Regions from separate parts of the Homo sapiens genome. Here region 2 is linked to region 1. Evidence: fine-mapped expression QTL. Tissue or cell type: whole blood. Region 1 holds a variant in brackets; the other region holds the start of a gene. All regions are shown on one strand. Distances are between the middles of the regions.

Region 1 (6,068 bases):
CATGCCACTGGGGCCACTGAAGGTTTCCAGGAAGGACAGACAGACACATCAGCAAGCCAGGAGCCTGGGAGCCCACATGGAAAAGGGGACACGAAGGCCAGTGGCTTCCTGTGTCGCTGGGCAGCAGGCCGCCTCCAGGCTGTGCGCGTCTTCGACTTTTTGACTCATGGGAAAGAAGCTGTGATGGACTCGAGGTGGCCATGTGTGTTGGGCAGTGGCTCCCAGGTGTTGGGCCAGCAGGGAAGGGCGTTGCAGATGGAAAGGGGTTCAGAGACACACGGATATGATACATCCCTACATCCTTTGCCCCTGCCCTCTTCCCACGTCAGGGCTTTTTCTACACCACAGGGATCCTTACGTCCCTCCCTGGGGCCTCCACCCCGACCCTGTATTCCAGCTGTTTTGCACAGAGGTCTGATAAGGACTCTGCTGCTTCTGCAGGCCTTACCCTGGCTTTGCCCCTTTCCATGGCTGACCAGGCCTTGAACACAGCTGCAGTGTTAGAACTGCGCCCACTGTGAGGAGGGGCTGAGCACTCGCCTCCTCCACGTCCCCTTCAGCTTCCTCCTCTGTGACGTTGGGGGCCGGGCACAGAGTGCCTAGCATGGGGGCTGGCACATGGGACTGTGAATAGTGGCCCTTGTTCCGTGTGTCCTGCCTGCCCTGTCCCTGGTCCTGCAGGTGGCTGGGCCTGGACCCCCTCCTATGGTCCCCAGCTCCCCAACCCATGCTTTGTCCTGGGGCTGTTGTCCCCTAGTCCTGTAAATGTATGGCCTTGGCCAGGCACACTGTGTCATGCCTGTAGTTTTGGCACTTGGAAGGCTGAGGTAGGATTGCTTGAGGCCGAGTTTGAGACCAGCCTGGGCAACATAGTGAGACCCCTGCCTCTTTAAAAAGAAAAAAAAAGATGAGGCCTTGTCACAGGTATTCGCTGCGGTTGACCAGCCGTGCCCACCTGCCATTTCTCCGCTCTGTGCCTGGCACTGGGCGAGGCCCCTGTGGTCTGTGCGCTCACAGATTCCGCTGAGGAGGACTGCAGGGAGGGACGCGGAGATGGCTCTGTAGCACAGCGTGCAGCACCACAGCACCACCGATGCCGACGGGCAGGCAGACACCAGCCAGAGACCCGCTCCCCAGCCGAGGGAGGACCCGTGAACTCTGCTGTGAACCTGGAAATTACCAAGCACCACAGCATGACTGCCAGTGAGACCTGAGGACCCTGGGGCCGACCCCTCTGCGGGCAAATGTGGCGCATCCCTGCAGGCTGGGCCACAGCAGCCCTCCCTTGCCCTCCCCCACGCTGGCTTTCTTCTTTAAAAGAGAAAAAAAAACAAAACCCTGTGAATTCATCAGAGCAGATAGTCTGCTGGGGCACCAAGCCCGAGACGGGCATTTGTGTTCCGTGCTGTGTGGATCAGGTTTCCCCGCTGAGATGTTTAAATCCCAAGGCCGCCCATCGGCAGCAGCCAGCTCCACTCGGCAGGATTCGGAATTTTCCTCCTGCTCCTGCCAAGTGGCCACCACAGCTGTGCCTGCCGGGCACAGGGCAGCTGCCCACACCCCTCTGGGTAAAACCTGGGATTCTCCTGCCTACGGTAGCCCTGTCCTGACTCTCAGTCCACAGTGTCTTCACAGTTCATTTCTGTATTTTTCCACCTTGTATTCTCTGTTCTGTGTGTCACATCCCTTGCTCCCCTCCAAAGAGAGCCAAAGGTCTAAACTCTAATGAATGCCAGGCTTCAAAGGAATAGCCCCCTTCTCCCAGGGGGACAAGAGTCCCATGCTCTGGGGCAAAACCCCATCTTCGTGTCCAGCTTGCTCGTTTCCCAGGTGCCTGGCTCACAGGTGACAGAGTACAGGGTCAGGCAGAAAATCCATGCGGCATGCAGGTGGCGGGTGCAGGTGGGATGCGTGAGCATAGAGTGGGCAGGTCTCCGCTGGGCATCTCTGGGCAAAGATCTGAAAGACCACAAGCCAGTCTTGCCAAACCCTGGGGAAGTGTCCGGCAGGCAACAGTGGGATCCTTCCCAGAGGCCACTGCCAGGCCTGACTGAGCCGGGGCCTCTCCCATAGTGACTTCTCAGCCCTGGTCCTCGCCTGGCAGGGTTGGCCAAACCTCACTTCTCCCTGCTCCAGGCGGGGACATGTCACAGCCTCTGTGGGAGGCCAGCCGGCATCTGAAGCAGGGGCAGAGTCTTGGAGACTGTTCCCTCTTGGGCTCGGCCTGTTTGTTCCAGGCATGGGGAGAGAAGGCGCTGGTGTTGCTCTCAGGATGGCAGCCCTTGTGGGGCCTGCGGTTGGTCACTCGGGGTTTGCAGCTGGTACTCTGACCCCGTCCAGGTGGGGCCCTGTGGGAGAGTGGGGAGGGGGCCCCCACCCACCCTGCCACCCTGATGCAGGTTCAGTCAGCGGAGGGTGGTCTCACCCCTGAGCCCTGTTGGGTCCCTGGCTACTGAGTGGCCCCATTATTTTCCTCCGTTTCCTGCCATGCGGGGTGGGAACAGGAGGCGAGCCTTGTGGGTATGGGATGGACTCGAGTGCGGAGCTGTCATTGCCACTGCTGAGTCCGCTGCACTAGTCAGGGCTACAGCCAGCCTGCAGAGTCTCCCTCGGCAGGAATGGACTGCTGGGACCATGGCCTCAGTCCTCCCTCCCCACCGGTAGGGTCTCTGATGCGGGGGCATTGGGGCTGGCTGCCCCACAACAGGCAGCTCTTGCCTGGCAGATGGCACCAGGGTTAGGAACACTCGCTCCTGACAGCGAGCCCAGAGGCGCCCTCTGGT[G/C]AGCCTCCCCGTGGCGCCCAGCTCTGCCGCAGACTCTCGGTCCCCTCCGTGCTCAGCAGTGTGCTGGTGTGGAGACCGCAGTGAGTAGGGCCCCAGCGGGCAGGAGCCCACGCTTGGTTTCCGCGCTTGCGGCCGGCGCTGCACGTGGCCCGGCTGCCTTGCTTTTCCCGTGTTTCCCTTGTGGCTGCTCATCCCTGTGTCCATCTGTGCTGGTTTCTAGCCCATAAGCCTTGGAGAGAAGGGGCCTTACAGGGTTGTGTCCCCTGCCCAGTGCCTGGCCCGTGGGGGACCATCAGTCACCACAAGGGACTTGGCTGGAGCTGAGCAGAGGGACCCGGGTAGTTAGGGCACAGCCTCCCGGGTGTCAGGGGTGCGAGGAGTCAGGCGGTTGTGGGGGTTCAGGAAGTCGTCCTGGGGCTCAGGAAGGCAGGGTCCTGGATTCCCAGGTGAGATGGGCAGGTGGGGCCAGGGCCAGAGCCAGAGGCCACCAGGTGGGTCTTTGGTACCGTGGCGGGTCCCCAGCCCCTCCCCTCAGAGGCAGGATGTGGTCCTCGCCGGTAGGGCCTCTCCTCCTGCCCTGTGAGAGGCAGGGGGCTGGGGAAGGGCCCTGACGGAGCCACTCCTGCCAGCCTGCACACTGGGTCCTGCCTGGGCAGGTCGTGGGGCCGGGGTGGCCTCCGCCCAGAAGGTGTGGTTTCGCAGCCCGCTGGCTTCAGTTCTCCTCCCGGCTTCCCAGAAGAGTCCAGTCTCACATCAGCCACTCATTTCCCTCTCCGGCAGCCGCTGGCTCTGAGCACGCCCTCTCTCGCCACAATCAAAAGAAGTGAAACTGTCCCAGGAAATAGAGTGGAACGCCCCAAAAACACCTAGGGAGGGGGGGCTCCTTCCTCCTAATGCCTTCAGCAGAAATGGAGGGCAGCCCCACTCTCCTGCCCCGCAAGGGACAGTTCCTGCTTCTCACCTGTGCCAGAGTCAGCCCTCCCGCGGTGGGTGTGACGAGGTGATTTTTTTTTTCTTTCTTCTTTCTTTTGAGATGGAGTCTTGCTCTGTCGCCTAGGCTGGAGTGCAGTGGCTGGATCTCTGCTGACTGCAAGCTCCACCTCCCGGGTTCACACCATTCTCCTACCTCAGCCTCCCGAGTAGCTGGGACTACAGGCACCCGCCATCAGGCCCGGCTAATTTTTTTGTATTTTTAGTAGAGACGGGGTTTCACTGTGTTAGCCAGGATGGTCTCGATCTCCTGACCTCATGATCCGCCTGCCTCAGCCTCCCAAAGTGCTGGGATTACAGGCATGAGTCACCGCGCCCGGCCAACGAGGGGATTTTTAAGAAGCTTCCAAGGTGCTGTGTGGCTGAGTTGAGAGCCACCAACCCACAGGCAGGAAAGGGACAGGGGTCAGAGGCATGGGGCCTGTGCTCACTGAATGCCCGGCACACCCCGCACATGAAGGCAGGTGGACAGAAAGGGTCCCGATGCGTGGGTGAGGACAGTCCCGTGGTGTGGGGGCTTCCAGAGCCAAGCCTTGGAGGAGGGCCAGGAATTCCTTGGCAAAGGGGCTGGTGTCTTTTTGGGCAGGTTGCCAGGACACAAGACCAGCCGTGTACTCCGGGCAGGCTACCTTTTGCAGAACTTGGGGTTGGGGGCATTTGCACTCATGGTGCCTTGGGCTGTGACCTCCAGGCATGGGCTAGAGGGTACACCAGGTGCCTGGCGTGGGCAGAGCCCCAGGCTCAAGCTTCTCCTGCCCCCGCACTTCCTGCTCTTGGGTCACTTCCTCCCAGGCTGGGTCCTAAACTCCTGACTGCCCTGCTGGACACCCCCCAGCCCCACACAGCCAACGCAGTGTGGCACCACACGGACCCTCATGGCATCCCTTGGCCACGTCTTGTGACAGCTCGGGGCAGGCAAGCACCAATCAGACCTGGGGAGCACCAGGGGCACAGGCCATGGCCCACGGCACGCAACACCTCACTCTCCTGCCCAGGCCGTGTGTGCACGTCTTCACACAAGTGATCAGACCCGGGATGTTAAATTTGCCGATGACTTCAGAGATGGCACACCCTGTGACACTTGGCCCCCAGAGGGCAGGGCCAAGCTTGTGACCTCAGGCGGCCTCCCTCTGGGAGCCTCCATTTGTGGCAGGGCCTGGCAGCCACTCGGCTCTTCATGAAGCGCTGTGTGCTGGGAAGGGCCTCACACTGTCCATCCTCACTCTGTGCGGCATCCCTTGGCGCCAGGCACACATGGGATACGTGGGGTGAAGAAAGCAACGCCTGTGCTCAGACAGCGGTGCTGGGGTTCAGTGGTTCCCGCCATGTTCCATGGGACATTTCAGGGCTGTTTTTCGCATCCCAGGCGCTGTCAGAGGGAGTGGTTTGGGAATTCAGTGCTTGCTTCTGCCTTCCCACCACACGAGGAAAGACGCTGTAAGTGCCTGTCATTGTCATCGCTTTCACCGTAGCTGAGAGCCGTGAGGACCAAGGTGTGCCAGGCCTGTGTTGACTGCCTTGTGAAACTCAGTGTCCACATGGGGCAAGGGCTGGGCTGTCCCATCCTGCAGACACGGGCACCAGAGCACAGGAGAATGGCGGCCTCCCTGCCCGGCTGCCTGCACCTCTTCTCGTAACTGTCAGCTCCTGCTGCCTCTCCCAGCCAAGCTGGCAGGATTTTTTTTTTTAAGTAGACCCCACATACTCAAGGATGGGGGCAGATCCCCACATTGCTATCTGTGGGGATGTTTGTGTAGGCGCTTCTGGAAGCAGTGTCTTCTGAGCCATGTGTTCTCAGGCTGAGGCTCTGGACTCCACCGTGGCCCAGATGGGGCCTACTGTGGCAGGGTCCCCAGTGGGTATGTGAGTGGCAGTCGGGACACACACAGGTGGGCAGGCCACCCCCACCCTCCCCCTCCCCCTGCAGGCCCACCCTGCTCTGCAGGCAGCGTGTGGCCCTGGGGTGCCCACGGCAGTGCCTGAGGTGTGTGTCCTGATCACTTGGCCTCCTGCCTCCAGCTGTGGATGCGATGTGGCTGGAAGGCGGCTCAGGGCCTCCTGTCCTCTTCTTCCTCCTACCCCTGGGCTCACAGCGTTTCCCCTCTTCTGTCCTCTAGCTGGTCAGTGAGAAGGTCGGAGGGGCCGAGGGGACCAAGCTGGATGATGACTTCAAAGAGATGGAGAAGGTGAGGAAGAAACTGCGTGCTCTGTGTGGTGGTGGCACTGCTGGGGCCTGACCTCTGCCGGGCATAGTGGAGGCGGCCAACCTTGATGGGCCTGGGTCTGGAGTGATGG
Region 2 (5,543 bases), 27 kb after region 1:
AGCCGTGGCAGGCGTGTGCAGCTGGTGCAGCCGGAGCCAGGTGGCCTTGTACTTGTCCAGTTTCTGGCCTTTGTACTTGACAGAGGCCCAGCCACAGCCCGACTTCTTGGCAGGGTTCACCAGCTTCTTGCAGTGGGTGGCCCAGGCGCTGGGTGAGTTGAAGGTCTGCCCGGTCTCCTGCCACATGATCCTTCCGTCTGGCTGCAGGTCGCCCAGGAACTTCTTCCCCTGCAGTGACAGTCAGCTGGCTGGGCCCAGGACCAACACCCACCATGCCCTCTCTCCCGGGGGGTCCTCCCCAGACCTACGCTCCCTCAGGCATGTCTTTACAGGGCTTCCAGGAACACCTCTCAGGCCGGCTGCAGGGCCTCCTCAGTGCCTGGGAGTCCACACCCACAAACCTGATCAGCCTGCACCAAGCTGCCTGGCAGATATCTGCACCCCGCCCACCATGACCAAGAAACCCCTAAGATCGGGGATAGGGTCTGTCTGTCTTGATCACTGCTGTGTCTCCAGGATGCAACACTCAGCAGTTGCTCCATTCAGAAACTCCCATTCAGAAGGGGAATAATGTGCTACCATTCACAAATCAAACAATAATGACAACAGTAATAGTAATAATACAGGGCTGGGTGCAGTGGTTCACGCCTGTAATCCCAGCACTTTGGGAGGCTGAGGCGGGCGGATCACCTGAGGTCAGGAGTTTGAGACCAGCCTGGCCAACATGGTGAAACCCCATCTCTACTAAAAATATAAAAATTAGCCAGGCGTGGTGGCGGGTGCCTGTAATCCCAGCTACTCAAGAGGCTAAGGCAGGAGAATTGCTTGAACCGGGAGGCAGAGGTTGCAGTGAGCCGAGATCATGCTACTGCATTCCAGCCTGGGCAACAGCGCGAGACTCTGTCTCAAAAAAAAAAAAAAAAAAAAAAAAAGGCCGGGCATGGTGGCTCACGCCTATAATCCCAGCACTTTGGGAGCTGAGGCAGGCGGACCACGAGGTCAGGAGTTCAAGACCAGCCTGGCCAATATAGTGAAACCCCGTCTCTACTAAAACTGCAAAAAAAAAAAATTAGCCAGGCGTGGTGGCGCATACCTGTAGTCCCAGCTACTCGGGAGGCTGAGGCAGAAAATCGCTTGAACCGGGAGGCAGAGGTTGCAGTGAGCCGAGATCGAGCAACTGCATTCCAGCCTGGGCAAAAAAGCGAGACTCTGTCTCAAAAAAAAAAAAAAAAAAAAAGTACTAATACCTACCACAGATAAAGTGCTTACCATGTGGCAGGCGCCTGCTGAGGGCTTTATTCATTTAACCATCCCCTAATTTTCCCATGGTGGGGAAATATTCCATTTCACGGCTGGGAAACCACAGGAAGGCCGGGGTGTTGCCCATCTGACCCTGCGCGGGTGGTGGCTCCTCTCTGAGCCTCAGCTTCTCCTTTGTGGGATGGGGTGTTTGGTAATCTACGTCCTCCCCACCAGAAGGACCCATCTGTGCCTCAGATTCCTCTCTCCACATGGGGCTTGTCCCGTAAAAAGAGCTCCGGGCCTCAGTGTCCCCTCCACGGGAGCTCCTCCTGCAGGAAAGGAGCTCTGGGCCTCAGTTTCCCCTCCCCACACTGGGGCTTGTCCTAAAGCAAGGGAGCTCTCCAGGCCTCAGTCTCCCTTCCTCACACCGGGGCTCTTCCTGCCGCCAAGGGAGCTCCGGGCCTCAGTCTCCCCTCTTCATGTCGGGGCTCTTCCTGCAGCCAAGAGAGCTCCGAGCCTCAGTTTCCCCTCCTCACACTGGAGCTCTTCCTGCAGTCAACGGAGCCCCGGGCCTCAGTTTCCCCTCGCCACACCGGGGCTCGTCTCTCAGCAAGGGAGCTCCGGGCCTCAGTGTCCCCTCCCTACACTGAAGCTTGTCCTGCAGCAAGGGAACTCCAGGCCTCAGTTTCCCCTTCCTGCCCGAGCCGCGATGGGACGAGGGAGGCGGGGTGCTCACCAGGTAGTAGATGGACAGCACCCCGGCGCCAGGCTCCAGCAGCGCGTCTTTGAGGAGCACCCGCAGTGTGACCGCGCGCCTGGTGAGCGCGCCCCCGGGCCCGCCGCAGCCCCCCGCCCCGGCCCCGCCGCCGCCGCCTCCTCCGCTGACGCTACTGCCGCCGCCGCCACTGCGTCCACCGCCCGCTCCCGCATTCGGCCGCTCAGGGTCCTCGGCCTCCGCTTCGTCCTCGTCCTCCTCCGGCGCCTCCTCGCCCGCACCGCCCGCCGGGGACAGCGGCTCCGGAGCTGCGGACAGCGAGAGGCTGCAGGGAGGCCGCTCGCCCCACGGCTCTGCAGCCCCGCGCCCCTGCAGCCCCGCGCCCCGCGCCTCCGCCCCGCTGGGCCCGCCGTACCTGCCATGGCCGCGCCTCCCCGCGCCCGGAGCTCTAGACTCCGGCTTCCCGGCACGTCACGCGGCCCCGCCCCGGGGAGGGGAGGGGCGCCCCAACCATTGGCCGTCGCCGGGGTCGGGGGAAGGGCTCGGCGCGCTGGGGTGGGCGGAGAAACTGAGGCCTCGGGGATGCCCACGCGGGAGAGAGATCGGGAACTCAGCCCTCTGGGAACATTCGGGAAACTGAGGCGTGACGGGGTGTTGACCGGGAGCTCATTGGTGCGAATGGGGAAACTGAGGCCTCGCTGTCCAGGGATAGAGGTTGCAAGGTGGAAGCCTGGGGCGGGTGCGCGAGTGGCTCAGCCTGCTGCAAGGAGAGGAGAAGGTGAGACCTGCGGTCACCGCACTTGAGGAACTCAGAGGCCTCGGCCTTTAGGACCAGGGGAGAAACTCAGGTCCAGGGGAACAATGCGGACTCCAATAGGGAACAGCCTCGCGCAGACACAGGTGGAGCCAAAGAGCCCAAGCCGGCCTCAGTCGCTAAAGAATTAACTCCCACCCTCCCGGGCGGCCCTCGACTGATTCCATGATTGGACCGTTGCGGAGCCCGCCAGCCAATGATAAGAGTCCCATTTATTTCACCCTCAACCAATCGATAGCAAGCTACTGGATTCCCGCACCAACCAATCCGTGTCAACTATCTGATTACACCAACTCGGATTTGACCAATGGGCAGACGTCCATGTAAACCAATCAGTAGAAACCCTTAGTTATGAGCGCAAACCATCAGAGGCAGGGACTGGACTCACCAGCCAATCAGCTCCGGGTATAAGGCCAGCCGAGTCCGGCCCTCCATACCCTTGGGCGGAGCAGGAGGCAGGGCCGGGCTCGTTGCGCGCCTGATCAGTGCAGCCCCGGCCTTTGTCCCCTACCCTGTTTCTGCAACTACATCCCCGACCCTGTCCTGGGACCTTCGTCCCGGAGCCCAGGCTCTGGGATTTCCCTCAGTCCCTGGCAGGGTTGAAAGTCCGGGATGGGGACTTCCTAAAGCTCCGGGACGCCGTGGGATGGGCTCAAGTGCGGGTGGCTTTGCCCAGACCGCAGTCGGGAAGTGGGAACTGGACAGTAGGGGTGCGGGGGAGGCTCTCCAGGGTGCTCGGGAATGTTCTCAGGAAGAAGACTTGACATAGAGCAAGAGCTGGGTACATGTGAACTATTGTTGTCCAGCCCAGGCACCCTTTAGGGGCCCCACCCTGACTGTCCAGCCAACAACGGGCATCCCCAAGGCCTGCAGACTCAGCATAGCCCAAACCGGCCTCAGTTTATTTCCCCAACTCCTTACGCACTTTCTCTTTGGCTTTTTTTCCGTCCCCTGCCTTCCAAAACCCTGAGCCACACCTCCAGCCTCTTGCACCCAAATCCTGGCCATCGCAGTGAGTCTCAGGCCTCCAAACTCATGCCCCACCCTGTCGGTCTTCCACCATTGCCCCAGAGGGCTCTTTCTAAAATGCACCTATTACCACCTCCCTCCCATATTATTATTTTGTTTTCTTTTCTTTTCTTTTTTCTTTTTTTTTTTTTTTTTTTTTTTTTTTTTTTGAGACGGAGTCTCGCTCTGTCACCCAGGCCGGAGTGTAGTGGCAAGATCTTGGCTCGCTACAACCTCTGCCTACCAGGTTCAAGCGATTCTCCTGCCTCAGCCTCCCAATTAGCTGGGACTGCAGATGCACATCACCACACCCAGCTAATTTTTGTATTTTTAGTAGAGAAGGGGTTTCACCATGTTTGCCAGGCTGGTCTCGAACTCCCAACCTCAGGTGATCCACCTGCCTCAGCCTCCCAAAGTGCTGGGATTACAGGTGTGAGCCACTGCGCCCAGCCTATTTTCTTTTCTTTTCGAGACAGGGCCTTGCTCTATCTCCCAGGCTGGAGTGCATTGGTGTAATCATGGCTCACTGCAGCCTTGGCCTCCTGGACTCAAATGATCCTCTTGCCTCAGCCTCCAGAGTAGCTGAGACAACAGGCGTGACCAGCATGCCTGGCTAATTTTTAATTTTCTTGTAAAAGAAGGGGATCTCACTATGTTGCCCATGCTGGTCTCCAAGTCCTGGCCTTAAGCAATCTTCCCACTTGGGCTCCCAAAGTGTTTGGATTACAGGCGTGAGCCACCGCACCCTGCCCTCCTCTCATGCTGTAAATCCTTCTGTCGCTCCACATTGCCTTAGACAAATACAATAAAAACTAACCACCCTGGCTGGGCACAGTGGCTCACGCCTGTAATCCCAGCACTTTGGGATCACTTGAGGTCAGAAGCTGAAGACCAGCCTGACCAACATGGTGAAACCCCATCTCTAATAAAAACAAAAAAATTAGCCGGGGGTGGTGGCAGGCACCTGTAATCCCAGCTACTCCAGAGGCTGAGGCAGGAAAATCGCTTGAACCCGGGAGGCGGAGGTTGCAGTGAGCCGAAATCATGCCACTGCACTCCAGCCTGGGCAAAAGGAGCAAAACCCTGTCTGAAAAAACAAACAAACAAAAAAACGAAACAAAAATCAACTCTCTGACCTTACTTAGTATAGCTGATACTATCAACTTTATCAGACAGTTCAGTGGATGAACACATTGCCACAGTCCCACGGCCTTTCTGTGATTTCTAGAACACCTGTTCTGCTATGTATACAAAGTCTAGCCCTGGTAACTACTAAGGAAATTGAATTTGTAATTTAAAAACTCCCAAAAAAGCAATCTCCAGACCCAGATGGTTTCACTAAGGAATTCTGCCAAAGGTTCAAAGAAGAATTAACACCAATTTCACATCATCTCTTCCAGAAAATTGAAGGGGACACTTCCCTGTTCATTTTATGGAACTATGACCCTGATACCAAAACCAGATAAAGACGGTACAAAGAAAGCAAGCTACACCCCATATCCCTCATGAAGACGTGCAAAAATCCTTAACAAAATATTACAAAGTAGAATTTAACAATATATAAAGTGAATTATACACCATGACAAGTGGGGTTTACTCCAGGGACCCAAGACTGATTCAGTATTCAAAATTAATCAATTGTCCACCATATTAAACAGGCTGTGGTAGGCAGAATAATGGTCTCTTAAAGATATCCACGCCCTAATTCCCAGAATCTGTGAATACGTTAGGATACGTGGCAAAGGGATTTGAAGATTAAAGATA

What was found. PIP is the estimated chance that this variant, and not a neighbour inherited with it, causes the effect.
Region 2: it holds the start of MPND, and the variant in region 1 is fine-mapped to the expression of MPND in whole blood (INTERVAL, PIP above 0.99).

Annotation. Positions count from the first base shown.
Region 1 is chr19:4,366,817-4,372,884 of GRCh38, reverse strand. It overlaps SH3GL1 (SH3 domain containing GRB2 like 1, endophilin A2), which reads left to right. Exons shown (of 10, transcript NM_003025.4): 2 at 5,891-5,959. Among named protein-coding and RNA genes, the nearest start is that of MPND, 26 kb to the right of the region's middle. RefSeq lists enhancers at 1-451, 1,996-2,943, 3,396-3,585, 2,944-3,893, 6,042-6,068. The variant G/C (reference allele first, on the strand shown) is at 2,784.
Region 2 is chr19:4,340,430-4,345,972 of GRCh38, reverse strand. It overlaps MPND (MPN domain containing), which reads right to left and starts at 2,411. Exons shown (of 13, transcript NM_001300862.2): 1 at 2,373-2,411; 2 at 1,979-2,265; 3 at 1-228. The coding sequence starts at 2,379. RefSeq lists a silencer at 2,270-2,559 and enhancers at 2,628-3,359, 3,380-3,499.